Homo sapiens: one gene and its partners. The protein of the gene in region 4 purifies or fractionates together with the protein of the main gene of each other region. This does not show direct contact. Each region holds a gene or a part of one and is shown on either strand. Other genes may lie near its edges.

Region 1 (7,026 bases), on a different chromosome or scaffold from region 4:
TCTTACTGAATGGTGTTTTCTCCTTGAATAGAAACGTGTTCAGTTGATCATCAAATACTTAAAGGACCTTGAAAGCTTGTCTGGCTCTAATTAAAGCACAGCTACTTGGTGATCTTAACAGAAACCTGTCCTCTCTCGGAGAAGTGCAACCTCTTCCACTGCGCTGACAGCTTTGTGGGAAGAGGGAGAACTACAGGAAACAATGAAGAAGTCAGAAGGTGCCTGTTTACCCAAACGTGTCTGCAGCCATGTTCCTGCATACCCCGGTTAGAAGAACCGCTGAAGCACTATGCTATCAGCTTAAAATCTAGGTGACTACAAAACCCTGGAAAGTTTGGCACATAAACTACATTAGGCAAGATCAAGGATGACATTTGTTCTTTGATTAATCATTATCACTGCCATTCAATGTGACCTGCCAAACATACACAACTTACATCTTTACAGCAATCCTAAATCCTAAGATTTAGTGATGTTAGTATGCTTAAAGAACACAAGCCAGTTACTAGCTAGTTCCAAAATCTCAGCCAGAAATATGTGTTAACACTGGATTTGCCACATCTAGAAGCACAATCACTCCAGTTATGGTGTCTAAACGAATGTCTAAAGTTAGGTGAATGGAATGTAATCAGACTATACTAAACTTGGTTCCAAAAGTTATAGAAGTTGTAAAGTTAGTCTAAACTAAAGCACTTAAGTGAAAAAGTGTAACTGCCATATCAGAAAGAAGAGCTCCCACCATGAAAATGTCACTGAATGTATTTTTTATTTTTGAAGGTATTTTTAAAATCTGGGCACACCATATCTATCTGTAGGACCCTGGGTCCAAAGGTCCTACATAACTGATATGAACCATAATTCTCCATATTAACAAAGGCTCGGAAATTGAAACCAAGATCACCTAACTCGCTCACTTTGGCCAATATAGTACGAATTTCAGCTTCTTTACAAGAGAAGAGTCCTGAGATGTTAATATGCAGCAATTCTGCTGATGTGCATTTTAACTTTATGCACCAAGGAAGAAAGGCTAAGGAATTCACAAAAGTAAAATCACCCCCTGAAAAACAGATGCTGGTGATTGGAGAAAAAAGAGCAGTAGAATTAAGGTGTTTTATAAACCAGAGAGTGTTTTGTTTCTGATAGGTAAAGGGATTTCTTCATATGTTATTTTAATAAAAGGGAATTTCATAGGTAAAAACCAATATTCAAAATTATAAAACAAATAGAACTGTTTGTGCACAATCACTGCATCAAAAATTTGCAAGAGACTCAACAGAAATTCTTTAGTTGGCAAATGTGGTTTGAAGGGGTAATAAAATCTTTTTATGGCTAAACCAAGAGTCTTGTTTCCTGTTGGCCCAAAAACAGATGTTTCATTTCCCAGATAAGTAGGTTCTCCACTGTAAAGAAATATTCTTGTATAGTTGGTTTCTATGTTCTTGAACTCTGCTCCAAATTCAGCCAACTTGTTAAAGGTCCTTAACACAAATTTGGAACAGTCGTAGGAATCAAACCATGTCTCTGCCCCCTTTTCTGGGCTGGCTTTTACATTCCATGTCTCATAATAAATTCCTGTTTCATTGTCCTGTTTCACCCACTTTGCCATTTGGTTGAACATGTTTCCTAGTTTAAAAAAACAAAACAAAGTCACCTAGTGAACAAAGCTAATCATGTTAATTTTTTTTTTTTTTTTTTTTAAGACAGGTCTCCCTCTGTTGCCGAGGCTAGAGTGCGGTGGTAACATCACAGCTCACTGCAGCCTTGACCTCCTGGGCTTAAGTGATCCTCCCACCTCGGCCTCCTGAGTAGCTGGGACTACAGGCGCTGGCCACCAAACCCAACTAATTTTTTAATTTTTCTTTTTTTTAATTTGAGACCAGCCTGGGCAACACGGGGTCTTGCTGTATTGCCCAGGCTGGTCTCAAATTCCCAACCTCAAGTGATCCTCCTGCTTCAGCATTCTAAAGCACTGGGATTATAGGTTTGAGCTACCATGGCTGGCCTAATCATATTAATTTTAAGTAAAATGTTCTAACTTGATTAAGACTGGATGCCTGAGTAAACAATGGTTTTGAATTTCCACACCTGCATTTCACAACAGGAATCCAAGCTCAGCCAATTTTATTCCATTCTTCAAGGCACAAGATATTTCTGAATTATAAACATTAGATATAATAGGTGTATAAGGAGAAGTCATCTTACATACTAATTCTATAATCATTTAAGCTATAGTCAAAGCGAAATTATACAAATGCAGAAGCTCTCTTTCTCTACCCAACTCACCAAATCTTGGATTCAGAGGCAAAAGAGAAAAGGAAAGCACAAAAAGAATTGCGAAAGAGGAAAAGCAGAATGGGCAAAGACAGTGTAAGGAAAATGGAGGTGTGGGAAATGTGGAGCTTCACTGTTGCAAAGCATGCTACACATAAAGTATGAATGGCTGCCTGAGGAGCCACTGCTCTAGAAGGCTGGCTATTACTGTTATGAGAACAAGCACCATACCCCATCCACCTTGTGTGTTTGGTACGTTTCTTTCTTCCCTGTACTTGGAGTTGCTGGGATGCTGCTGATGACCTCTCCACCTGCCACGTTAAGTCCTTCCAACAAATCAACTAAACTGGAAATGTTTTAGGCCGAGTTCATACTCCAGGATGGCTAACCCTCTCTTCTACCATCTTGTACTAGACCAGAAGAATCTTTCCAAATATTCAGAAAACACTACTCTGCATGGTTACAACTCTCATCTTGGGCATTTATAATGCCTAATAGAACTGGGCCCCAAACACTGCATCCTGTCACTGTGTGCAAACCTCTTTGGTTACTCCAACTTGAGTCCATAAAATAAATACTTCATGTTCTGTAAAATGAATAGAGTGACTGCCTTTATCAATTTTATGGAATTAAAATTGTAGAACAGAATAAAGCCTGTTGTATTAGAACTGGGGATACTGTTCTTAGCATTCTTCAACTTTCAAATGCCACCACTATCCTTATGAGACAAGAATGCTTCAAAACACTATTTTGTCAATCACAGGATTATTCACAAGGCAAATAAATGACTTAAAAGATTTAAGTACTGGCATATTTTGAACTATTTTACAAAAAATAGTGATCACTTATTCATATGATCATTGACTTTATGTCAGAAGGAAGGATTTTCAGATAACGATGTAGGTGGAAATGGGGAAAGGTGTGAACTGGCCTGGAATGAAAGAAAGAACCGCTAATGATGGACTTTTGTATTGTTGGTATGGTTTAAGGCACATTGATTAGAAAGTAGCAGGAAATATTAGAAAACAACATGGTGCATTCGGCTAACAGATCCTTGTTACATTTAAAAGACCTCAGTTTTATTCCTGATTCTGCTACATCCAGCTCTTTGACCTTGAGAGGCAAGTAAGTCATGTTACCTGGCTGAGCCTCAATTCCTTATTTGCAGAGAATGAGTATCTTATCCTCTCCACTGAACCGTGAGTTAACATACCTCCAAATCATTTGTAAAGAGCTATACAAATAGGAAGCATGATTACTTCCTCAAGTCCTGGGGTTCACTGAATAATTATTGTCACAACAGTGCTTTCATTTCAGATGTTTCTACTGTTCTGGGGAACAGCAATTTATAATGTAATGCTTCATAAATCATATGGACAAGCTCCTTACTTCTCAAATGCTATGGTATATTGTCTCCATTTTGCACATGAGGCAACGGGCCAATAAGATATAAAATGTGACCCAAGTCACATAAGGAGTTACCAATGAAAGGATTGCTGAACTCTTTTCATTACTAACCAACAATGCAGCACTTGCAACACAATTCCAACTTTCAGCAACTTTCCAATACATCCAAAAGAAGAAAAAAATCTCAAAGATAAAATATTTAAACTGCTCAAGAGGGTCTCAAATATAAGATCATATACATTTTGGGAGGCAATGTATCAAAGTAGTTAGGAGAATGGGCAATGGGGCGTAACTGCCAGGGTTGGAGTCCCACTTACTAAGCTGTGTAACTTTAACCTCTCTGTGCCTCAGTTTCTCCATCTGTAAAATAGGCAAAATAATAGTTACTACCTCCAGAAGTTGTGATGATGAATGATGTGATGTATGTACAGTACTCAGAACAGTGCCAGAACCAGTCTATATTAGTAGCTATTATTTTTCAACATAAAAATATCATCACTAAAATTTTTTTCAGATATAGTTAACATATCCTTTAATCAGGCATTTTATGGATTTCTCTTACTATTTCGTTTAGAAAGACCAATTTAATTGTACAAAATGTTTTATCATTTTATTCATTTTTATGATGGGAAAAGAGCATTTTTAGGGAAACATTCAAAGATCAGAGATAAGCTACTCATCACCAACAGGTGAAGTTCTGCATGAGTAATAGTTTGGGTCAGAGTTTAGTGGTTCCACCAAAAGCAAATGCAACAAAAACAAATATAAATAGATGAGACTTAATTAAACTAAAAAGCTTCTGCACAGCCAAAGGAACAATCAGCAGAGTAAATAGACAACCCACAGAGTGGGAGAAAATCTTTGCAATCTATACATCTGACAAAGGACTAATATCCAGAATCTACAAGGAACTCAAATCAGCAAGAAAAAAACAATCCCATCAAAAAGTGGGTTAACGGCCGGGAGTGGTGGCTCACACCTTTAATCCCAGCACTTTGGGAGGCCAAGGTGGGCAGATGACCTGAGGTCAGGAGTTTGAGACCAGCTGGCCAACATGGCGAAACCCCATCTCTACTAAAAATACAAAAATTAGCTTGGCATGGTGGCGGGCGCCTGTAATCCCAGCTACTTGGGACGCTAAGGCTGGAGAATCGCTTGAACCCAAGAGGTGGAGGTTGCAGCAAGCTGAGATTGTGTCATTGCACTCCAGCCTGAGCGACAAGAATAAAACTCCACCTCAAACAAACAAACAACAACAACAAAAAGGCGGGGTGGGGGTGGCTAAGGACACAAATAGACAATTCTCAGAAGATATACAAATGGCCAAGAAACATGAAAATGCTCAGGGAAATGCAATGATCAGGGAAATGCAAATCAAAACCACAATGTAATACCGCCTCACTCCTGCAAGAATGGCCATAATCAAAAAATAAAAAAAAATAGATATTGGCGGGATGTGGGGGAAAGGGAACACTTCTTCTCTGCTGCTAGGAATGTAAATTAGTACAACCACTATGGAAAACAGTGTGGAGATTCCTTAAAGAACTAAAAGTAGAACTGCCATTTGATCCAGCAATCCCAGTACTGGGTATCTACCCAAAGGAAGAGAACTCATTATACGCAAAAAATACTTTCCCATGCATGTTTATAGCAGCACAATTTGCAACTGCAAAAATATGGAACCAGCTCAAATGCCCATCAATCAATGAGTGGATAAAGAAAATGTGGTGTATATATACCAAGGAATAATACTACTCAGCCATAAAAAGGAATGAAATAATGGCATTTGCAGCAACCTGGAATAATGGTCTCCAATTCCATCCAAGTGAAGTAACTCTTCAGGAATAGAAAACCAAACATTGTGTATTCTCACTTGTAAGTGGGAGCTAAGCTATGAGGATGCAAAGGCATAAGAATGATTAACTTTGGGAAGTCGGGGAAAAGGGTCGGAGAGGGGTGAGGGATAAAAGACTATACATTGGGTACAGTGTACACTGCTCGGGTGATGGGTGCGCAAAAATCTCAGAAATCACCACTAAAGAACTTATTCATGTAACTTAACATAACCAGTTCCCCACAAACCTATTCAAATAAAATAAATAAAAAATACAAATAAGAGATGAAAAAAATTCCCAAAGTTTAATGGTTCCAAAAGTACATTTTACAAATGACCTCTAAGTAAAACATTACTGAAATGTTTCAATGGAAGTATAACAATTTCTTTCATTTGGTTTTTGATGCAATGATCAAATATTGCTATATTTTCACAACTTACCTGATATAGTTGCTACTTGAACTAATGTCCCATTTTCCTTCCAGTGAACATCATCAATTCCCTCAAAAAAGCAGGCAGCGCCTTGATTACACCAGAAAGGGGCATCCATTTCAGGTCGGAGATGGGGAAATGTACAGTTGCCAAGTTGGAAAAGTTCATACCATTCCATTGTGTAGTTCTTGCCAGTTAATGTACTTCTGAATCCAATGGCATCATGCATAATTTTCTGTGTAAAGACAGTACATGTATAAAAGCAACTGTGACACAACCATGGGTCCAGGTAACCTGATAGGAGAAAATGTGGCACATCACAAATGCATATCAAGTAGAACAACTGTTCAGCTGTTCTTCCATGCTGCTACTGTCATATCCACTCTGTGGCCCCAAACTCCAGGCCCTCATCCACCCCAGCTTTGGCCACTACACCCCTATTTGGCTCATCTCAAATAGGAGGCCTGCATGTTATGTGGACAAGCTGATAATTTCCTTAGAGCTTAGAATAAGTGTGAGGAGCCCCCATGCCAGTCTCTGGAAGCAGCTCTACAGACCTCACATGGTGATGGGTTAACCTGGAAAAGTGACTACAACAGAGTATGGAAATCAAGAGGTGTTACCTGCCTGCCCTGCCACTTCTGGGCCTCTTCTCACCTTCCAGGAGCTAGGTACAGGAGCTGGTTTCAGATTCATAATATTACAATGGATAATGGTGATTACATTTGTTGTTGTCAAGATTACAAAATCTGATAGTAACTATTTTTGACTACTCATTTTAAATGTACTAAGACAAACACCAACATGATCTAAAGTCAGCCATCTAAATAGTGATTACTCCTTAAAAATCAACTTAATAACCAAATCATTGAATTAACCAAAGTTATAAGACCAAGATGCATCCTTACCAAGTGTCCCAGGAGGTCTCCATATTTAAATTCCCATACTGGGGCTTGTAATCGAAAAACTTCAATGTCATCATCACCCTCCATAACTGGGATAGGTGAGCCAGTTGGACAGAAAGTATACTTAGCTTGACAATAAGGATCAGGTTTTGGACGGAAGTCAAAGCGCCTAATAAA
Region 2 (7,026 bases), on a different chromosome or scaffold from region 4:
TTGTTGAATAGATTGTGAAGCTCAGAAGGCACAGTAATCTGTGTTGTGCAAACCCTTATCAACTCCATTGGGGATGGCAGCATGTTCAAGAGGCTGAAAAACAGCCAGCAAGTGAGACATGAGGTTTCATTGAGGACCTACGTACAGGGCAGAGAGTCCGGGGGTAGAGGGCTGGGCAAGAGAACTGCAACCGCTTGCAAAAGGCATGCAGTTTATAAAGCATCTTCACTTAGTACTCTCCCACTGACAACCTCCACCTGGCAACCTTCATTTAATCCAAAAACAAAGGGCCTCAATCCCCTCTACGGCCCGTGTTCCACGGGACCGACCTGGGTGTCAGGTCTTCCTCATAGACAAGGAATGGATCTCTGGGCTGGCCACTCCCAGATTCCGTAGCTCAGATTTCCCAGCCACATTGGGGTGTGTGTGCCACCCAGGGTCATTTTGGGGTATGCTGATGTTATCGCTCTCAGGTGTATTTACTTCATAATTTGAAAGGCAAAGTGCTTTTGATTTGAAAAAGCAGGACCCCAGAGTGAAAGAAATTGTTTATCTTTTTAAGTTCCAAAAAGCACTGGTTTGGAAAAATCACAAAACAAGTCATGGAGGCCTAGAACGTAGCATTTACTGACTGAACTATAGGGTTTAGAAAGCATGCCATCCAACTACCTTTAGGGGAAAGAGGGCTTTTGTTACTTCCCAGGCAAAACATCACAAGACTGCAGCTCAATCAGGGGCTGGAGCAATGAGATGCCTGGGTGGAAACTGGCAACAGCTAAGGAAAATCTAGGTAGATAAGCCTGAGGGCAATCACAGAAACCTGAATACCCAGCCTGTGCGTGTCTGAGTCCTAACAGTGGCTCAGAAGCATTTGCTAAAAGGGGACTGAAAGAGGCTAACAGAGGACGAAGAGGGCCCAGGACACAGGGAAATTTTGAGCAGAGGTCACTACACAGACAATGGAACGAGCCACAGAAGCTTGAGCAATGCCCCAAAGGCCACAAGGGACTGAGCTACCCTTTAGTCTGAAGCCAATAATAGCAGATGATGGGTGTGAGCCAGATATCTCTTCCCAGTCGCTGGACAACAGGTAAACCCCTTTCTATTTCATTCCTTGGGAGGGTAGCTACACAGGGTGGAGAAAAAGAGTCTTTTTTCTGAGATGGAGTCTCGCCCTGTTGCCCAGGCTGGAGTGCAGTGGCGCGATATCGGCTCACTGCAACCTCTGCCTCCTGGGTTCAAGCAGTTCTCCTGCCTCAGCTGCCTGCGTAGCTGGGACTACAGGTGCATGCTACCACGGCTGGCTGAGGGGTCTTGAATCTGAATAAATACTTACCTAAATAAGACTAAATCTAAACATAGAAGTGATTGCAAGATCATCATTTTCTACCATGGTGGAAATGGAGGCTTTGAAAGCTAAATGGAATTCATTTCTAGAAAAATGAAGAAAGTTACATGTCTGATTCCTGAATTTGGCCTGCAGCTTTCAATCAACTGTAATAAGAGAATCTAGTCGCCTGCCTCTAAGGCAGTTTCTTCTCTGTAGGTCCTGGGATCTTGCTATGAAGTTAAAAAGGCTTCTTTGAATGGCATTCTTTTTGCTAGAGGATGAGGATCAGGGAAAAATGTTATAGAATCATGAATCACAAGATATCCATATTCCTATTTGAGAGACAGAATTGGCGCCAGAACCCAGGTCTACCAAGATGCATGGATGAACTCTGAAAGCCTCAAGACTCTTGAGGGATAAATTCAACCAAGCAGCATTGACGGGCCTGCCTTAGTAAAGAACATTTACTTCAGAGACAAGACGCACAGCACTGACATGTCTGATTATTATAATTTGCATCAGACTCAGCAAAGTTGTTGACTAGCACATGGCCTCAAGTGAATATTTCTGATTAAGGGAAGAAAAAGACATAATTAAGAGGTAATCGGCTGATGTGGTGGCTCACACCTGTAATCCCACCACTTTGGGAGGCTGAGGTGGGCAGATCACGAGGTCAAGAGATTGAGACCATCTTGGCCAACATGGTAAAACCCCATCTCTACTAAAACTACAAAAATGAGCTGAGTGTGGTGGCACACGCCTGTAGTCCCAGCTACTTGGGAGGCTGAGGCAGGAGGACCGCTTGAACCCAGGAGGTGGAAGTTGCAGTGGGCTGAGATCGTGCCACTGCACTCCAGCCTGAGGGCAGAGTAAGACTCCGTCTCAGAAAAAAAAAGGAAAAGAAAAAAAGAGGTAATCAATTACTAACATTGCACAGACTTTAGCTTCCTTTTCCCTTCCTGCTGCTTTTAAATTTTTTCTCCCTGAAGGGAGTATTCCTGGGGAGAAAAGTTGACTCATGCCTCTGTCCTTCCTGGCTCTCATTTGGGACGTGTTTAGCCTTGGAAGGAAGTCAAAGGACTGGCTATGTGATGGATACATCCTCTATTTCCTTTGCCTCATCAAAGGCACAGCCTTTCTGTCAATTTTCCTGGTACTAAGGGTGGGAAGGAGACCTATGACTACCATAATAAATAGCAGTAACTTTCTAATTGTTTACCTAAAATGCAACCCAGGAGTTGAATTTCATTAATCACCCTGACATTTTTGGGGTAGGAATTACATAAGGGACCTAGATTTTTGAATTATTTTAAATTTGGATATATTATGTATACAAACCTCTCCCCAGTAATAACAACTAACCACCATTGATTAGCATAATGTAACCTAAGAAAATAAATTTAACTAGATGTTCTTGAAATTGCCACAGGTAGGAAGCATTAGTATACGATATAATACCAAATCCACTTTGAGCCCACTATGACGTCTCCATTAGTGTCATAAAAGGTTTATGGCAAATTTATAAGAATATGTTGCGGTATCCTTTTTGTCTAATCCCAGAGGAGAGAAGAAAGCCAAAGGCCTGAAATTAATGATGTATATTTAGGCAGTCAGCTTACTGGATGCTGCCCCAAACCAAAAAATAGCTCTACATATGGAAAATTCCCAATCAGGGGAGGGGCTAGTGGAAAGAGACAAGGTTTTTATAAGTAGTTGAAACTGTCATTTAACTATTAATGACTTCTAAGTATTTATTGAAACCATCTTAAACATAAAAGTGAAAATCAAACCCTAAAACCAAGAAGTCTGATGTTCTCTGCTAAAAAACCTGGACAGTGAAATAATCTTTTAAGACAAATCAATGTCTTCATATAGCATGCACAATACATAAATTACCTGTGCCTCATGGCTTTCCATGTGCCTTCAATGTGAATTAGGTAAATCAAGAATAGTTATGGTTCCTATCATGAACCAGTTCTTTTTTTCTCCACTTTAAAATGTTCAGTCTATCTTTGGAAAACCACAAAATATGGCTGGAAGAGATACATATATTTTTTGAGACAGTCTCACTCTGTCGCCCAGGTTAGAGCTCAGTGGCTCGATCTTGGCTCAGTGCAGCCTCCGCCTCCCGGGTTCAGGTGATTCTTGTGCCTCAGCCTCTAGAGTAACTGGGACTACAGGCATGCATCACCATGCCCAGCTAATTTTTGTATTATTAGTAGAGACGGGGTTTTACCATGTTGGCCAGGCTGGTCTCGAACTCCTGACCTCAACTGATCCACCCACCTCGGCCTCCTAAATACTGATGAGATTACAGGCATGAGCCACCATGATGGGCCAAGCTGGAAAATATTTATGCTTTAAAAACATGAGCTTCATGACAGACACGTTGAGGTTCATGCTATAATAGGAGCTATGAGCTCAAAAGGGTTAAAATAATTTGCGCCAGAAAGGATGCAAGCTGTCTATGTCAGTGCAAGCCGCGGTATTGAGGAGTTTCAAATGAAAACTTGGGTTGTGAAGTTGACAAGTTTTATGTACAATGCAGATTGTTAAGCCATTCTGCCTTTCTATCATTGTCTCTTGACAGGAGAAGGAAGCGTGTGTTTGTCTTTCTTCAAGTTCTCATGAAAGTCGCTCTGGAATCGTACATTAAAAAAGCCTGTGGCATGCTTAAGCTTCAGCCTCATCTGTAGAAGAAAACTGCCTTTGCATGATGCATTTTTCAGAAAATGGACTCTATTTCAGGACGTAGACTCTCACGTGGGAAAAGAAAGAAAACCTTACCTGGGTAATCATTCTTGTCTATGTCTGAATCTCCTCTTAAAGTAAAGCCAAATCCGGAAGGGACAGCATGTGAGGCCCACACTCCTTGCAGAACTTGGGAAGGCTTGGTGTTTAAGCCATCTTTGTTCCCATTATAAATGAGCACTTTGCCTCTTTGATCCTTGCCTGCAAAAGGCACTCCGATGGCAATGTCTAAAAACAGACATAAAACATGTTTTATGTGTATATGTATTTAATTCTTCATTTGTTCATTTTAGAGACAGGACCTTACTCTGTCACCCAAGCTGGAGTGCAGTGGTGGGATCATGGCTCACCGCAGCCCCACACTCCCGGACTCAAGTGATCCTCCTGCCTCAACTTCTCTAGGAGCTGGGACTACAGGTGCATACCACCATGTCAGGCTAATATATATATATATATATATATATATATATATATATATATATATATATATATATATATAGAATTTTTTTTTTTTTTTGAGCAATGGGTCCTTGCTTTGTTGCCCAGGATGGTCTGGAATTCCTGGCCTCAAGTGATCACCCCACCTCAGCCTCCCACACTGTTGGGATTAAAGGCATGAGCCACTGTGCTTGGCCATAGAGACGTTTCTTTTTTAAGTACAGAAGAATGGTTCAGAAATAGTTTAGTATACTCAAAAAGCAGTATCGAAACTCTAAAGGGCTTATAATGTTTTCCATGAAAATTCTGTAGTACTGCTGCAATGACAAATTATTTGTTGCCTTTTATCCATCCAACAAATATTTATTAAGAGCCTCCAGGGCCTGGCGCGGTGGCTCACACCTGTAATCCCAGCACTTTGGGAGGCCGAGGCGGGCGGATCATGAGGTCAGGAGATCGAGACCATCCTGGCTAACACAGTAAAACCCCATCTCTACTAAAAATACAAAAAATTAGCCTGGCGTAGTGGCGGGCGCCTGTAATCCCAGCTACTCGGGAGGCTGAGGCAGAGAATTGCTTGAACCTGGGAGGTGGAGGTTGTGGTGAGCAGTGAGTTGAGATCGTGCCACTGCACTCTAGCCTGGGTGACAGACTCTGTCTCAAAAAAAAAAAAAAAAAAAAAAAAAGATGATCTAAAAACTCAGATTTTTGTAGAAAATAAAGATATTGTCTTGTGTCAGGCGAAAAGGAACACTTTCGACACTTTCTTAACTTTCTCTAAGTCACTGCCTTGACTCCCATCCCCTTGTTTACTCTCAGTGAATTTCACATGATTTTACCTACTTTGTATACTCAAGGACACCAAAGCTCAGAGAAGCTAGGACCTCCCTTTATGTCATTTAGAATGCTTCTTTTATCTTTTAAAAATACTATTAAAGGTTTGAGAGAAAAGACAAATAGAAGAAAATATGATTTTAAACGACAGCTCCATAGATAATTTAGCACTATTTATTTTACTTGAGTGATCAGGAATAGAGCAGCTTTACAGAGTAGCAAGTCACTTAAAGGTAAGCTTGTCTTTTAAAAAATTTCCCTGGAACCATAAGCTTTTTACATGTACTTTGTTTTATGATACTTTAAAATTTACTAACCATATGTTGCTGAGAACTTTTTTTCAAAGAATGTGTAAGAGAACAGAAACATTGGCCAAATATACTAATGAATACTAATCTGATGTGAATACTTCCAAGGCTACTTTGTTACAGCAAGTTCCTGTTACTTCCTTGAGTTCAATCAAGAAATTCACTATGCTCGGTTCTTAACTAAAGAACCTGAAGTGCATTTAAGAAAATGCATACATTTTCAGGTCCTGAAAATGTATGCAAACTTTTGTGTGAAGGTGTGTGTTTTTCTGAGGAGAGGGTACTTGGAGGGGTTTCATAAATTCTAACCTAAAGAACTACAAGCCTAACCTACGAGTTTAACACTACTTTGTTGCAAATATTGAAACTAAGGTGAAGCCTACGTGCCAATTAAAATTCAGTATAACCTGTACATAACCCATGTAGGCTGATCAGAAGTCAGGATACTTGCTAATATATCAACATGTATTTATTTGTCTTGACATATAGAAGGTTTCCTAGTTACCTTTAAGTCACCAAATCCAAACATCAATTTTAAAAATAATTCCTGCCTCTACTGAGAGCTATTACAGGATAGCCAACATCAAATGTGAGAAAATTGCTTGGACGTCAGAGCAATGACGATTTTTGTATTAACTTTGGCTTTAAAGTTTTAATTCTTAAAACTGAATAAGAAATATTTCTGCAAGTAAACAGCACTTATAAGTAGAGAAGTTTAAAGTTGAACATTTGAGATGTTATTTTGAAGTTTGCAGAAACCTAAATGTACTTATTTTTATTGTAACCTGGAGTGCCTGTGGCCTTCCAATGTCTCTTAAAATTCATTTAGAGGTTTTCAAAATGTAGTAACACCCTCAAACCATTACCTGGAGCTCTGAAGACTGAGCTCTGAGGTAGTATGGTTTTGACATTGCTTAATGAGGTTTTTCTGATGTTTCTGATAACCGAATGTGTCTTCTACAAGGAGATCAATTATACTAAATTTAGGATTGAAACAAATTATGTTACAGATTTTTCTCTGTGTTGCATTGTAATCTTGTGAGATTTGAAATAAAAATTTTCAGAAAGGTGAGAAGGGAAATTTCCATGTAATATTTATATTAGTCAAAATGTATAAACGTAAAGCTGCCTTGAGATTTGTGATAGTTTATTAAAAATCAGTAATAATAACTGCACCCACACACACCATACTGAATACTTTAAAACAGGCATGGTCTCCTTTATGCAGTGGTGACGACACATAAATGACTTCCACGCTTTGGTTTAAATTACCATTGTATCCATCTTGGTTCAGGTCTCCTAAGTGTGCCATAGCACTACCGAATCTCCCAAACGTCTCGGTGCCAGTGAGGATCTGGGGGTCTC
Region 3 (7,026 bases), on a different chromosome or scaffold from region 4:
GCCGTCAGCGCTGAGCGGCCCCAGCCTGCCCAGGGCCCAGCTGCTGGAGACCCGCAGCTCGTCCCCGGCGGCTCCTAATCACCAGCAGCTCCTGTTTCTCAAACGCAGACATCCGCCCCTCTTGGGGTCAGGCCCTTCCACCTGCAGGCGAGCCGCCCCAGCCCACTCCCGACTGGCGCTGTGCCTCGATCACCGCTCTTGCTCCCAAGTGGACCGCAGGGGAGACGCTCTCTTACGGGGACCCTGGGGGCGCTCACTCTCTGAAGGGCCTGGAAGCTAGATTCCAGAGGCGTGGGCCACCTCTCCCTGGGTTTTGGGGAGCCCCCTCCGAGGGTGTTCATTTCCTGAGCTCTGTGTCATCTTAGGCTCTGAGGGTACGACCAGCATAGACAGACCGCAGCTTCAAGGGGCTGACATTCTCGGGGGAGGAGCGTGGAAAGGATGGACAGGCAACATTAACCAGTACTGACGTAGATTAGGAAGTGGAGGGTGCTACGGGAGAAGTGAGGCAGGGAAGGAGGAGAGGGATGCGGAAGTCAGCAATTTCACAGAAAGCGATCATTGGCTGGGCGGCCCAGGGTGGAGGTGGGCAGAAGGAACTGCAAGCAACAGGGCAGTTTTTCTGACCCCGACTTGGGCCCATGGCTGTGTCCCCTGCGCCCTCTCCGTCCCAGTGTGACTCGCCAAGGCCTGCCAGCTTCCTCAGGCCTCCACTCACCCTTCAGCAGGGCCAGGTACCCTCCAGCCGCGGACCTGCTCGAGGGTGGTGTCGGTGAGCTCGATACGCAGCGGTAGCAGGGGGGCCCACACGGTCAGCCGCAGCGAGGCGCGGAGCCGGCGCCACCAGAAGTCCACTCGCACCCCCCGGGCGCCCCGGCTCTCCTTGCCAGCCACGAACACGGCATCACAGGCCTCAGACACCTATGGAAGGGCAGAGGGCAGGTGGGCGGGCTAAGCCACTAAAGACAGGTGTGAGGCTGGGCCGGGTGGGTGGCTCATGCCTGTAGTCCCAGCACTCTGAGAGGCCGAGGTGGGTGGATCGCTTGAGTCCAGGAGTTTGAGACCAGCCTGGGCAACATGGCAAAACTCCCTCTCTACAAAAAATACAATAAATCAGCCGGGTGTGGTGGCACATGCCTGTAGTCCTAGCTACTGGGGAGGCTGAGGTGGGAGGATCCCTTGAGCCTGGGTAGCTGAGACTGCAGTGAGCCGGACTGTACCATTGCACTCCAGCCTGGGGACAGAGTGAGACTCTGTTTCAAAATAAATAGATTAAAAAAAAAAAAAAGGCATGGGCCAGAAGAGAGCAGCCCTGACCTCAGGCCGTAGGACGGGCTCCCACTGAGTTCAGCTCTGTGTGTCACTGGAATGCATGTTGCAGCAGGATTGTTGGTTAAGCCCCTGTTCTTTGTTTAAGATTTTACTGTAGGGGCCATTCCTTGAGGTTCCCTGGGGCTCAGTCAGGGGAACTGGCCATTGCATACCAGTCTTCCTCCTGGCAGAGCAGGGGTGTGAACCCAAAACTTTGGCTCCTTATTCATGCTGGCCTTTGACATTGCTCTTGGAGCCACCTGGCAACCAGCTACAGCCAGGTAGGCAGAGGTGGGACAAAGCAGATCTCCCACCAAGGCCCTCCAGCAGGAACCACACACATTTGAGCAAAGGACCACAAGTGGGGAAAGGCACCTTCCCCCTTCAGGTGGCTGGGATTTGCATACATGCAGACTCCATGCTTCCCCTCTTAGAACTTCAAGATAGAGGAAGTTGCTCTACCACCCTCCCTTTTATTTCACTTCACAATCACCGGTAATAATAATAATAATAATTTTTACCATTGTATAATTATTACATCATATTATAACAGCAATAACTGCCATTGTTTCAGCCCCTGCTATCTGCTAAATACTGTCTTAAAGTGCTTTTAATTCTTACAACAACCCGAAGATATGTTCTCATTTTAAAGTTTAGGTAACGAGGCTCAGAGAGGTTAAGAGACCAGCCCATGATCACAAAGCTGGTTGACAACAAAGATGTGTTTCAAACTAAAACTTTCTGATCCCAGAGTATGTGCTCTCGACTCTCTCAGGCCAGCGCACTTGCCAGTGCAATAATGAGCGTGAAAGTGTCTAAGGTCGGGGGGCTGTTAGGGTTACTTGACTCGGGAGAGAGGTGGCTGGAACAAAAGAAGTTGAAGCTGTGGTTCCTCCCATGAGGTTTCTCGTCTCAAGAAGAAGCTGTTCTCTTGGGGACCCACATGAGGAAGGAGGAAAGGTGTGTGTGCGTAACTGTGCCCACACAAATGCAGACTCACATGAGCTGGGCACCTGCCACTCACCTGCAGGACCTGTGTGTTGGCAGACTCGCAGCCGACATGCTCTGTCACCTCCACCAAGGCCCCCCCGCCGTCCACAGTGACAAGGCGCACGGGGACATGCTGGGGCACTCCAGTCAGTGGTGCTGTATTCACCAGCTCCTCAGCCTGGGGGTGGAGGAGGGGCTCAGCCCCAGGCCCCTCAGCTCATGGGGCTCCTGGGACTTGGCCTCCAGCCTTCCCAGGCAGAGATGGAGGTCTCCTTACCTTGGCCAGTGGGATAAGGGCTCTGATGTCCCGCTCAGACACCAGGATTTCCCACACCATTTTGTCCTTCTCTGCTTCAGGGGCCTGGCCTGGGTACTCCAGCTGCCACGTGACGGGGCGAGTGACCGCTACGCCCCCACCAGTGCTATTCTCCACCACAAAGTCCACCCATAGGAACTCAGACAGTTCAAGGGGACTGCTGGCCAAAGGAGACAGAGAAGCCAAATGCTTGCTAGCTGCCAGGCATGGCCTCAGCACTTCCTGCATTCATGATTATCCCCATTTTACACAGGAGGAAACTGAGGCACAGAGGTTACATAGCTCACTTAAGACCACACAGCAAAAAGTAGCGGGGCTGGGATCTAAACCCAAGCATCCTCGCTCTAGACCCCAAACTCTGACCCACTCTTGGCCTCTCTAAGATCCATGAAGCCATTTAACCACCTCCCACCTGGCAAGGTGGCTCACTCCCCTGCCTGCCCGGGCCCGCTTCCCCCAGACTTCCGCTTTCCACAGCCACTGAGGTGGCATGCGGGAGATTCACTTCCAGGTCCCAGGACCAGACACTTGACCCTCTGAATGATAAGCTTCCTTTGATCAAACAAAAACCTATGTGCTGGGAACCGTCCTGGGTGCCTGATATGTAGCACTGTATTTTATTTTCAAAAATGCTAAGGGATGCATTATTATTCCTATTTCACAAGTGAAGAAACTGAGGCTTGGGTAGGGGAATGTTAACTGGCTTGCCCAAGGTTTTGCCCATCCCAAAAGCATCAGAACCAGAATTCGAACTGGGGCTACTGAGTCCATGGCCTTGACCCAGGCTCAGGGCATGAATAAGAAGAGTTCACAACCGCAGAACTGCAGCTGGGCTTTTTGGGGGAATGTGAACGGCCCAGAGAAAGGATCATTTGGTGGAAGCAGGGGGATGGAGTAGTGGCTATGAGGGCTCTACCTGGGGCACAGGATTGGTTGGCATCTCTTAGAATAAGACTCACAGACACTTGCTATGCCTGGCACATGGCTGGGGCTGGGAAGATAGTGGCCGAATGAATGAATGAAGGAATGGATTATGCCTGCTTTGTGCTGCTTCCTTGAAAAAATCTGTCCTTGGGTCTGCTCACCTGGGGATCTAGAGGCAGCATGGCAGCCTCCAAATCTGCTCAACTGCACTCTATAACCAGCCCTCCCTCCTTTGCCCCCTGGGTGGAGGGAAACTGCCCACCTGGAATCTGGCTCTGTGAGCCCAGCACGGTGGCAGGTGATGAGGGTGGTGTGGTGCCTGGAGCCCTTGAAGCGGTCCAGCTTGGCAGTCCAGAGTGTGGGCTGGGCTGGGCGGGCGGCTGTCACATGCAGCCCCTTCTTCACCTTGATCCTGGGGAAGAGAGTATAGGCTCAGTTTGGCAAGGTGCATGCTGAACTGTGGGCTGGATTGAAGGGGAAAGACAAGGAGCCAAAGCCATCTGACCTCCCTGGCTCCAGTCTGAATCTCCTCTTCACCATCCTCCAACCCAGAAGGACCCCGCCTCAGTGCAGCTCACACCTTACAGCTCTCCCCCACCCAAAGACCACTTACGCCTCCCCACTGCCCATAAGGTCAAAGCTTAGCCGGGCATTTGGGGGCCCTCCAGGGTCTGGTCCAGCCTTAACTTCGGTTGTGACATCTCTCCATGCACTCTCTGCTTCAGCTACACACAAGTTTCCCACACACACGGCACCCATTCGTGACTCCAAGCCTTTGCCCAGTCTGTGCCTTCAGCCTGCTCTGCCCTTTCTTACTTTACCTGCTGATGCTTTAAGCCTCCAACAACTCACAGACCATTTCCTTTAGAAAGCTTTTCCAGTGGTGGGATGAATTTCCCCCTTACTGCACCCACTCACCTGAGCTCCCACCGCACTTTGAACCTCCCTCAGTGCTTACACACCCACATGCCTTCTAATCCAATTCATGCCCATCCAGCTCCCTTCCCTACCACTGGGGCCCCTTTCTGCCAGATAGGGACTGGCCCTTGCTCGTGTTTGGATCTGCAGAGTGAAGACACAGGGCTTGGCAGGCTGTAAGTGTCTAGGAAAGATCTGCTTAATAAGAGTGAGCATAGGAGGGCGTAGGAGATGGGGAGACACAGAGACGGGACATGCACAAACCCAGGCAGGGCTTGAAACTAGGTCTAGGTTTCAAAGCATGTCCACAGACCGCTCTTCGATCCTCAGGAAAGATATCATTACAAAGTGAGCAAGTCCCAGTGCCTCACCCTAACCAAGCCCAGGACTATCCTGCCTAGAACTCAGGCTTCTCAGAATCTTAAAGCCTAAGAGATGCCTCTCCCATGGATTCCTGCGCTGGACTCCAGAAGCAAGTCATACTCTGCAAGCCCTTGCCGGGTGAACTGGGTAGGTGGGTGGGGGCTGCTTTGGGGGAACTTATTACGGAAAAGGACACAAAGAATCAGGGCCTTCCTATGGGGAAGAGCAAGCTCTGTCCAAAGGCTAGACTCCTACGGCGAGGGTGGCAAGGAGGGACAGCATGTAGGTGAACGTGATTGGGGCAAATATCCCTCTCTGGAGCACTGGAGCAAGAGCTCACACTTAGGTACTGCAGTCTCTAAGCCCTTTGCGGGTTCCCCTCCCTGGAGACTTGCAGCTGCCCTGAAGGTGGACCGTTAGCCCCATTGGACAAAGGAATCTCAGGGAGGTGCCAGGGGAAGGGGCAGCTTCCTACTTCTGACTCTAATTCCAGGGCTGTGCCCATGGTGGGCTCCTACCAGCACAGTCATGGCTTTTTACCTGGAAGGAGTTTAGTTTGGTGGACACATGTTTTGCAGAGGTCAAGGATTCCAGCAAGGACCCCAGGAGGAGCAGGTACCTGTCCCTAGTCTTCCCACAGAGGTTCCCACCCTCACCCATCCCCGTGGCCTGGTGCTCACCGCAGGGTCAGGAGGCTGGCTGTGAAGTTGTGCCGAAGCAGGAGGGTAGCACTAAAGAGCTGGCCGGGCCGCACTGGCATGTCAGGCACCCGCAGAGTCACAGCCTCGTCCAGAGGTACCTCCTGGTACTGCGGGGGGTCTGCTGGGCGCAGCTCCACACCCCCCACTGGGAGGGCCTGCTCCCCAGGGTCGTTCTCCTCGCCGGAGCCACAGCCCCCAGGGCCCTCAGCTGCAGGCTCAAGCGTGTAGGCCAGCTCGGCCCGTGTGGTGGAGGCCTGTGAGAACCAGTGCGAGGGAAGCTCCAGCTCCACCACGCAGGCGCCCAGGGATGGCTGTGAAGACACGACAGCAGTAATTGGCATGGGGGTGGGTGCAGGGCGAGGAACAGGATTCTCAGCACCCATGGCAGGAAACCCAGAGCTGGAGGGGCTCATGAAAGGGAGGCCCAGCATGGGCCGGAGACACAGCCTGAGTGACACAGCAAACCAGCAACCTGGCTGGGGCTTCAAACCAGGTCTAGGTTTCAGAGCATGTCCGCAGACCACTCTTCAGCCCTTGGGATAGGTCTCATTACAAAGTAAGCCAATCCCAGGGCCTTACCCTAACCAAGCCCAGGACTATCCTGCCTAGAATCCAGTCTTCTTCTCAGAATCCTAAAGCTCAAGAGACGCCTCTCCCATGGATTCCTGTGCTAGACTCCAAAATAGTGGAAATAGCAATTATAAAAGTAACACTACTAATAATGCAAACACACTGGCTGATTGATTACTCTGCCGTAAGCTATCCTTACATTCATCTCACTTGTTCCTTACTCCAACTCCAGATGGGGTAGGAATTCTTAACACCCCATTCTTCAGATGAGGAAACTGAATCTCAGAGAGATTAAGTTACTTACTCAAAGTCACACACCAAGGACTGAACTCCCTCTGGGGCCCTAAATAACCTTTTCACAGCACTGAAAGCTAGTGGGGGCAGAAATGGAGTCGGGTGGTCCACAACCCCCGCGCTTCCCAGGAGTGGGGGTTTCCTCTCTGCCGCGGGCCCACCACCTGGCTGATGCAGCTGCAGCAGGACCAGCCTAGGTGGGGCCTGTCTACTCACCTGGAAGCGGCAGGCTTGGTGAGCAGTGCCGGCAGGGTGTGTGGCATGGAGCCGGGCACAGGGCAGGCTGCCAGACCCTGGTGGCCAATCCTGCCCTTTGAGGTGGAAGAGAACCCGGGCGTAGGGCTCTGCTGGAGTCACAGCCGCTTCCACTGAAACGGCCCGCACGTCCCATGGGACTGGCCGTTGGTGGGGCTCAGTGACTCGAGGGGGGACCACCTGGAGGGAGAATGAGAGGGCTTAACAAAAGAGGAGCTTGGGAGGGGAAGATCTAGGAAGATGGGATCCCAGCTTGGCAGAAGAGAACCTTTATGGGCCTCAGTTTCCCCCTCTGGAATATGGGGAGCACAGCCGGGGCTGGGGAAGGCTCCCAATTTGTACCCAGCAGACCTCAGGCCCTGAGTCCTGTTAGCCTGAGAGTCC
Region 4 (7,026 bases):
AAAATTAGCTGGGAGTGGTGGCGTGTCCCTGTAGTCCCAGGGACCTGTGAGGCTGAGGTGAGGGGATCACTTGAACCCAGGAAGTGGAGGTTGCAGTGAGCTGAGATCGGGCCACTGTACTCCAGCCTGGGTGACCAAGCGAGACTCCGTCTCAATTAAAAAAAAAAAAAAAGTGTGGGCTGGGCATGGTGGCTCACGGCTGTAATCCCAGAACTTTGGGGGGCTGAGGCGGGTGAATCACGAGGTCAGGAGTTCGAGACCAGCCTGACTAACATGGTGAAACCCCACCTCTACTAAAAATACAAAAATTAGCCAGCCATGGTGGCACACGCCTGTAATCCCAGCTATTGGGGAGGCTGAGGCAGGAGAATGGCTTGAACCTGGGAGGCGGAGGTTGCAATGAGCCGAGATTGCACCATTGCACTCCAGCCTGGGTGACAGAGCAAGATTCTATCTCAAAAAAAAAAAAAAAAAAAGGTATTTACACATGTAATGGATGTTCATGAGGAAATGTAGACAGATGGGCTCTGTGTTGCCTGTCTGAGGTTTTATGCATAACTTATGCATAGGAATTCATGCAAATGTCAAGACTGACAATAACTGTGCTTCCCTTGTCCTCCTCCTTAACCCCTCACCCTCAGCAAGCTCCCCTCACACTAATGGCTGGCGCTGACTCATTGCAACAAAGTGTCCCAATAGTAACAGAGTGGGTTTGAGTAAAATGGAACTGTTGAATTAAAAACTGAAATACTAAGAAAAATTTATTTTAATCTTTTTTTGACCCCAAATTATGCTGCTTGGCAATTCAGATGTAGTAGACACATGCTATATAGGGGTCTTTATTTATTTATTTATTTATTTCGGACAGGGTCTTATTCTGTCATCCAGGCTGGAGTGCAGTTGTGTGATCATAGCTTACTGCATCCTCAAACTCCTCGGCTCGGGGGATTCCCCTGCTTCAGCCTCCTGAGTAGCTAGAACCACAGGGGTGCGCCACCTCACTGGGTTAATTTTTAAAATTGTTGTAGAGATGGGGCCAGGCGTGGTGGCTCACGCCTGTAATTCCAGCACTTTGGGAGGCCAAAGTGGGTGGATCACCTGAGGTCAGTAGGTCGAGACCAGCCTGTCCAACATGGTGAAACCCCGTCTCTACAAAAATACAAAAAAATTAGCTGGGCATGGTGGTGGGCACCTGTAACCCCAGCTACTTGGGAGGCTGAGGTAGGAGAATCGCTTGAACCTGGGAGGCAGAGGTTGCAGTGAGCCGGGATCGTGCCGTTGCACTCCAGCCTGGGCGACGAGCGAAGCTGTGTCTCCACAAAAAAAAAAAAAAAAACATTTTGTAGAGATGGGGTCTTGCTATATTGCCCAAGCTGGTCTCAAACTCCGGGGCTCAAGTGATCCTCCCTTGATGTTTCAGATATCTGGGTGTTTTTTAGTTCTATTTTTATTTTTATTTTGTATTTTGTATCATTTATTTATTTATTTATTTGAGACGGATTTTTGCTCTCATTGCCCAGGCTGGAGTGCAATGGTGCAATCTCGGCTAACCATAACCTCTGCCTCCCAGGTTCAGGTGATTCTCCTGCCTCAGCCTCCTGAGTAGCTGGGATTATTACAGGCATGCGCCACCACGCCCAGCTAATTTTCAATTTTTTTTTTTTTTTTTGAGACGGAGTCTCACTCTGTTGCCCAGGCTGGAGTGCAGTGGCGTGATCTCAGCTCACTGCAAGCTCCGCCTCCCAGGTTCAGGCCATTCTCCTGCCTCAGCCTCCCGAGTAGATGGGACTACAGGTGCCCACCACCACACCTGGCTAATTTTTTGTATTTTTAGTAGAGACGGGGTTTCACTGTGTTAGCCAAGATGGTCTCAATCTCCTGACCTCGTGATCTGCCCACCTCGGCCTCCCAAAGTGCTGGGATTACAGGTGTGAGCCACCGCGCCCGGCTCTAATTTTGTATTTTTAATAGAAACGGGGTTTCTCCATGTTGGTCAAGCTGGTCTCGAACTCCCGACCTAAGGTGATGCGCCCGCCTCTGGCTCCCAGAGTGCTGGGATAACAGGCGTGAGCCACCGCACAGAGCCCTAATTTTTATTTTTTGTAGTGACAGGGTCTCACTATGTTGGCCAAGCTGGTCTCGAACTCCTGGACTCAAGTAATCCTCCTGCCTGGCCTCCCAAAAGTGCTGGGATTACAGGCATAAGCCACTGTGCCCAGCTGAGGATGAATATTTTGGAAGTACATTCATTCTTTTTTTGGAGATGGAGTCTCGTTCTGTTACCCAGGCTGGAGTGCAGTGGTGAGATCTCGGCTCACTGCAACCTCCACCTCCCAGGTTCAAGCAATTCTCCTGCCTCAGCCTCCTGAGTACCTGGGACTACAGGCATGTGCCACTATGCCCGGCTAATTTTTTTTGTATTTTTAGTAGAGATAGGGTTTTACCATGTTAGCCAGGCTGGTCTTGAACTCCTGAACTCCAGTGATCTGCCCACCTTGGCCTCCCAAAATGCTGAGATTACAGGTGTGAGCCGCGACACCCGGCCTGAGGTACATTTATTATTAAAGTTTTAAGTTACACTATACTTAGGTCTATTTCCTGTGGCCCAGTGTGGTCCCTTCCCAGTTCTAGCACAAATTTTAATCAAGTACCCCTGTTGTCAGGAGACATTTAATATTTTCTAGAGGTTTGCAGGCTTTTTCTATAAAGGCCAGATGGTAAAATATTTTTGGCTTTGTAAGCCTAATGATCTCTGTCATGACAACTTAACTCTGCCACTGGTACTGGCGAGCAGCCACAGACAACATATAAATGAACAGAGTGAGGCTGCATTCCAGTAAGACTTCATTTATGCACACTGAAATCTAAATTTCATATAATTTTCATGTATCACAAAATATCATCTTGTATTGATTTTTTCCAACCAGTTAAAAACGTAAAAAACATTTTTAGTTCACAGGTTATATAAACACAGGCAGTGGGCCAATTTGGCCCACGGCCAAGGTTTACTGAGTACTGAAGGATTCAAAACACAGGTTGAGGCCAGGCGTGGTGGCTCACGCCTGTAATCCCAGCACTTTGGAAGGCCAAGGTGGGTGGATCACCTGAGGTCAGGAGTTCGATACCTGCCAGGAGTTCGAGACCAGCCTGACCACCATGGTGAAACCCCATCTTGGCCGGGTGCAGTGGCTCACGCCTGTAATCCCAGCACTTTGGGAGGCTGAGGTGGGCGGATCACCTGAGATCGGGAGTTCAAGACCAGCCTGACCAACATGGAGAAACCCCGTCTCTACTAAAAATACAAAAATTAGCTGGGCATGGTGGTGCATGCCGGTAATCCCAGCTACTTGGGAGGCTGAAGCAGGTGAATCCCTTGAACCTGGGAGGAGGAGGTTGCAGTGAGCCGAGATCATGCCATTCCACTCCAGCCTGGGCAACAAGAGCGAAACTCTGTCTCAAAAAAAAAAAAAACCCATCTCTACTAAAATACAAAAAAATTAGCCAGGTATGGTGGCACATGCCTGTAATCCCAGCTACTCAAGAGGCTGAGATAGGAGAATCACTTGAACCCAGGAGGCGGAGATTGCAGTGAGGCGAGATCAAGCCATTGCCATTGCACTCCAGCCTGGTTCACAAGAGTGAAAACTCGGGCTCGAAACAAAAACAAAAACAAAAACAAAAACAAAAACAAAAACAAACAAACAAAAAAACTACACAGGTTGAGCATCCCAAATCAAAAAATCGCAAATCTGAAGTGTTCCAAAACCCAAAACTTTTAGAATCAACATGATGCTCAAAGGAAATGCTCATCAGAGCATTGTGGATTTCAGATTTTTCAGATTAGCGTTGTTCAACCAGTAAGGATAATGCAAATAATCCAAAATCCAAAAAAAATTTCCAAAATCCAAAACACTCTGGTCCCAAACATTTCAGATAAGGTATCCTTACCCTGCATGAGGGCAACATTAATGGTGAATAAATAACTTCTTCAGGAACACAACAGACTGGTACAGTTGCCTTTTTATATTAATTAGGCTTAATAGTGCTTGGATCCGATACACTCAATACTACTACAAACCTTGGATCCGATATACTCAATACTACTACCTTCACTACATTAGCAAAGTCTTAGTCTAAAGATCCTGTGAAGTGGGAGGGTTTTCAAAGTCACTAGAAGTGGTTGTGTTGCACCACGTAAACTCACCAAACATAATATAGTACTGCGATTTTCCATTCAGGTTCTTCTGGTCAATGTCTGCAGGAAAGACCTTAATGTAGCCCCCTCCACAGTCCATCTTCTGCTCATGTTTTACTGTGTACTGAATAACCAGAGTTTTCCCTTTATTGCTGAACGGTTTGAAGCGTGCAGAGATGGCATAGAATCGGCCATTCTGAGTGGTTTGCAGACCTTTGAACAAAATATACTCATGAAGGATCAGGAATGACGCTGCGCTAAGTAACGCAGGAAGTTAAATCGATGTCCTTCCCTTACTCCCAAACATAAATGTCCTAACCATTTACAGTGATCTACAGTGCCAACAGAGCATTATACAATAATGCATAATGGGTAGACCACTAGCAGGCACTCTGCTTCTATATAATTTTTTTTTTTTGACATGGAGTCTCACTCTGTCGCCCAGGCTGGAGTGCAATGGCGTGATCTCGGCTCACTGCAACCTCCACCTCCCGGGTTCAAGTGATTCTCCTGCCTCAGCCTCCTGAGTAGTTGGGATTACAACTACAATTAGCCACCACGCCAGGCTAATTTTTGTATTTCTAGTAGAGATAGGGTTTCTCCATGTTGGTCAGGCTGGTCTTGAACTCCTGACCTCAGGTGACTGCCCGTCTCAGCCTCCCAAAGTGCTGGAATTACAGGTGTGAGCCAGCGTGCCTGGCCCATACAACTTTTATTTCACACACCTGGAAGTTTTTGTTCTTAATATACCACTGTTCTTAATTAGTTAATTAATTATTTTTTGAGATGGAGTCTCGCTCTGTCGCCCAGGCTGGAGTGCAGTGGCACGATCTCTGCCCACTGCAAGCTCCACCTCCTGGGTTCACGCCATTCTCCTGCCTCAGCCTCCCGAGTAGCTGGGACTACAGGCGCTGGCCACAACACCCAGCTAATTTTTTGTATTTTTAGTAGAGACAGGGTTTCACCATGTTAGCCAGGATGTTCTCGATCCCCTGACCTCATGATCCGCCTGCCTCGGCCTCCCAAAGTGCTGGGATTACAGGCGTGAGCCACCGTGCCCGACTGGTCCCTTTCCTAAACATTCTACTCTGCCTTTTCAGCATAAAAGGCAGCCATAGACAATATATAAATGAATGGACTGCCAGGCATGCTGGCTCACGCCTGTAATCCCAGCACTTTGGGAGGCTGAGGCAGGCGGATCACGGGGTCAGGAGTTTGAGACCAGCCTGGCCAACATGGTGAAACCCTATCTCTACTAAAAATACAAAAATTAGCGGGGTGTGGTGGCATGTGCCTGTAGTCCCAGCTACTCAGGAGAGTGAGGCAGAAGAATCGCTTAAACCCAGGAGGCGGAGGTTGCAGTGAGCCGAGATTGCACCGCTGCACTCCAGCCTGGGTGACAGAGTGAGACTCCGTCTCCAAAAAAAAAAGAATGGATGTGGCTGTGTTCCAGTGAAACTTAATGGACACTAAACTTTCTTTCTTTCTTTTCTTTTTTCTTTTGAGACAGAGGCTCGCTCTATTGCCCAGACTGAATCTCTGCTCACTGCAACCTCCGCCTCCCAGGTTCAAGCGATTCTCCTGCCTCAGCCTCCTGAGTAGCTGCGACTACAGGCGTGCGACACCATGCCTGGCTAATTTTCATATTTTTAGTAGAGATGGGGTTTCACCACGTTGCCCAGGCTGGTCTTGAACTCCTGGCCTCAAGTGATCCACTCACCTTGGCCTCCCAGAGTGCTAAGATTACAGGTGTGAACCACTGTGCCTGGCCTAAACTTTCACATATGTGAAAGCAAATACAATTTAAAGCCTTGAGAGGCCAGGCATGGTGGCTCACATCTGTAATCTCAACACTTTGGGAGGCTGAGCCGGGTGGATCACTTGAAGTCAGAAGTTCGAGACCAGCCTGGCCAACGTGGGGAAACTCCATTTCTACTAAAAATACAAAATTAGCCGAGCGTAGTGGCGCGTGCCTGTGGTCCCAGCTACTCGGGAAGCTCAGGCAGCTGAACTGTTTGAACCTGGGAGATGGAGGAGCCATTGCACCCCAGCCTGGGTGGCAGGGCGAAACTCCGTTTAAAAAAATAAATAAGCCAGACGCAGTGGCTCACGCCTGTAATTCCAACACTTTGGGAGGCCGAGGCGGGCGGATCACCTGAGGTTGGGAGTTGGAGACCAGCCTGACCAACATGGAGAAACCCTGTCTCTACTAAAAATACAAAATTAGGCCGGGCGCGGTGGCTCATGCCTGTAATCCCAGCACTTTGGGAGGCCGAGGCGGGAGGATCACGAGGTCAGGAGATCGAGATCATCCTGGCTAACACGTGAAACCCTGTCTCTACTAAAAAAAAAAAAATACAAAAAATTAGCCGGGCGTGGTGGCAGGCGCCTGTAGTTCCGGCTACTCGGCAGAAGAATGGCGTGAACCCAGGAGGCAGAGCTTGCAGTGAGCCGAGATCGCGCCACTGCACTCCATCCTGGGCTACAGAGCGAGACTCCGTCTCAAAAAAAAAAAAAAAAAAATTAGCCAGGTGTGGTGGCACATGCCTGTAATCTTAGCTACTTGGGAGGCTGGAAGCAGGAGAATCATTTGAACCTGGGAGGCGGAGGTTGTGGTGAGCAGAGATCACGCCATTGCACTCCAGCCTGGGTAACAAGGGTGAAACTCTCTCTCAAATAAATACATAAAATAAATAAAAACCTTGAGCAAGTTGTGTGATCTGAGTCATGCAGCATGCAGGTGTAACCTCTGCTTCTTAAATCATAGATAAACCTTCTTCCTCATTGTTCTTGTTTGGCAAATGACTAGGACAAACCAGAGACCAGGCCTC

What was found.
Region 1: the proteins of CALR3 (region 4) and CLN5 purify together in Homo sapiens (affinity purification with mass spectrometry; 2 studies listed by BioGRID and IntAct, with this or other methods). This does not show direct contact.
Region 2: the proteins of CALR3 (region 4) and ITGA8 purify together in Homo sapiens (affinity purification with mass spectrometry; 2 studies listed by BioGRID and IntAct, with this or other methods). This does not show direct contact.
Region 3: the proteins of CALR3 (region 4) and TMEM132A purify together in Homo sapiens (affinity purification with mass spectrometry; 3 studies listed by BioGRID and IntAct, with this or other methods). This does not show direct contact.

Annotation. Positions count from the first base shown.
Region 1 is NC_000013.11:76,995,055-77,002,080, reverse strand, and holds part of CLN5 (bis(monoacylglycero)phosphate synthase CLN5), read right to left. Parts: intron 7,019-7,026; coding exon 6,853-7,018; intron 6,180-6,852; coding exon 5,954-6,179; intron 4,039-5,953; coding exon of another isoform or gene 4,010-4,038; exon of another isoform or gene 3,996-4,009; intron 1,624-3,995; coding exon 1,112-1,623; 3' UTR 1-1,111. UniProt on the Homo sapiens protein: Exhibits palmitoyl protein thioesterase (S-depalmitoylation) activity in vitro and most likely plays a role in protein S-depalmitoylation.
Region 2 is NC_000010.11:15,639,913-15,646,938, forward strand, and holds part of ITGA8 (integrin alpha-8 isoform 1 preproprotein), read right to left. Parts: coding exon 6,934-7,026; intron 4,310-6,933; coding exon 4,118-4,309; intron 1-4,117. UniProt on the Homo sapiens protein: Integrin alpha-8/beta-1 functions in the genesis of kidney and probably of other organs by regulating the recruitment of mesenchymal cells into epithelial structures.
Region 3 is NC_000011.10:60,927,437-60,934,462, reverse strand, and holds part of TMEM132A (transmembrane protein 132A isoform b precursor), read right to left. Parts: intron 6,823-7,026; coding exon 6,604-6,822; intron 5,835-6,603; coding exon 5,503-5,834; intron 3,954-5,502; coding exon 3,804-3,953; intron 2,778-3,803; coding exon of another isoform or gene 2,775-2,777; coding exon 2,579-2,774; intron 2,480-2,578; coding exon 2,336-2,479; intron 922-2,335; coding exon 719-921; intron 1-718. UniProt on the Homo sapiens protein: May play a role in embryonic and postnatal development of the brain. Increased resistance to cell death induced by serum starvation in cultured cells. Regulates cAMP-induced GFAP gene expression via STAT3 phosphorylation.
Region 4 is NC_000019.10:16,486,163-16,493,188, forward strand, and holds part of CALR3 (calreticulin-3 precursor), read right to left. Parts: intron 4,409-7,026; coding exon 4,205-4,408; intron 1-4,204. UniProt on the Homo sapiens protein: During spermatogenesis, may act as a lectin-independent chaperone for specific client proteins such as ADAM3. Required for sperm fertility. CALR3 capacity for calcium-binding may be absent or much lower than that of CALR.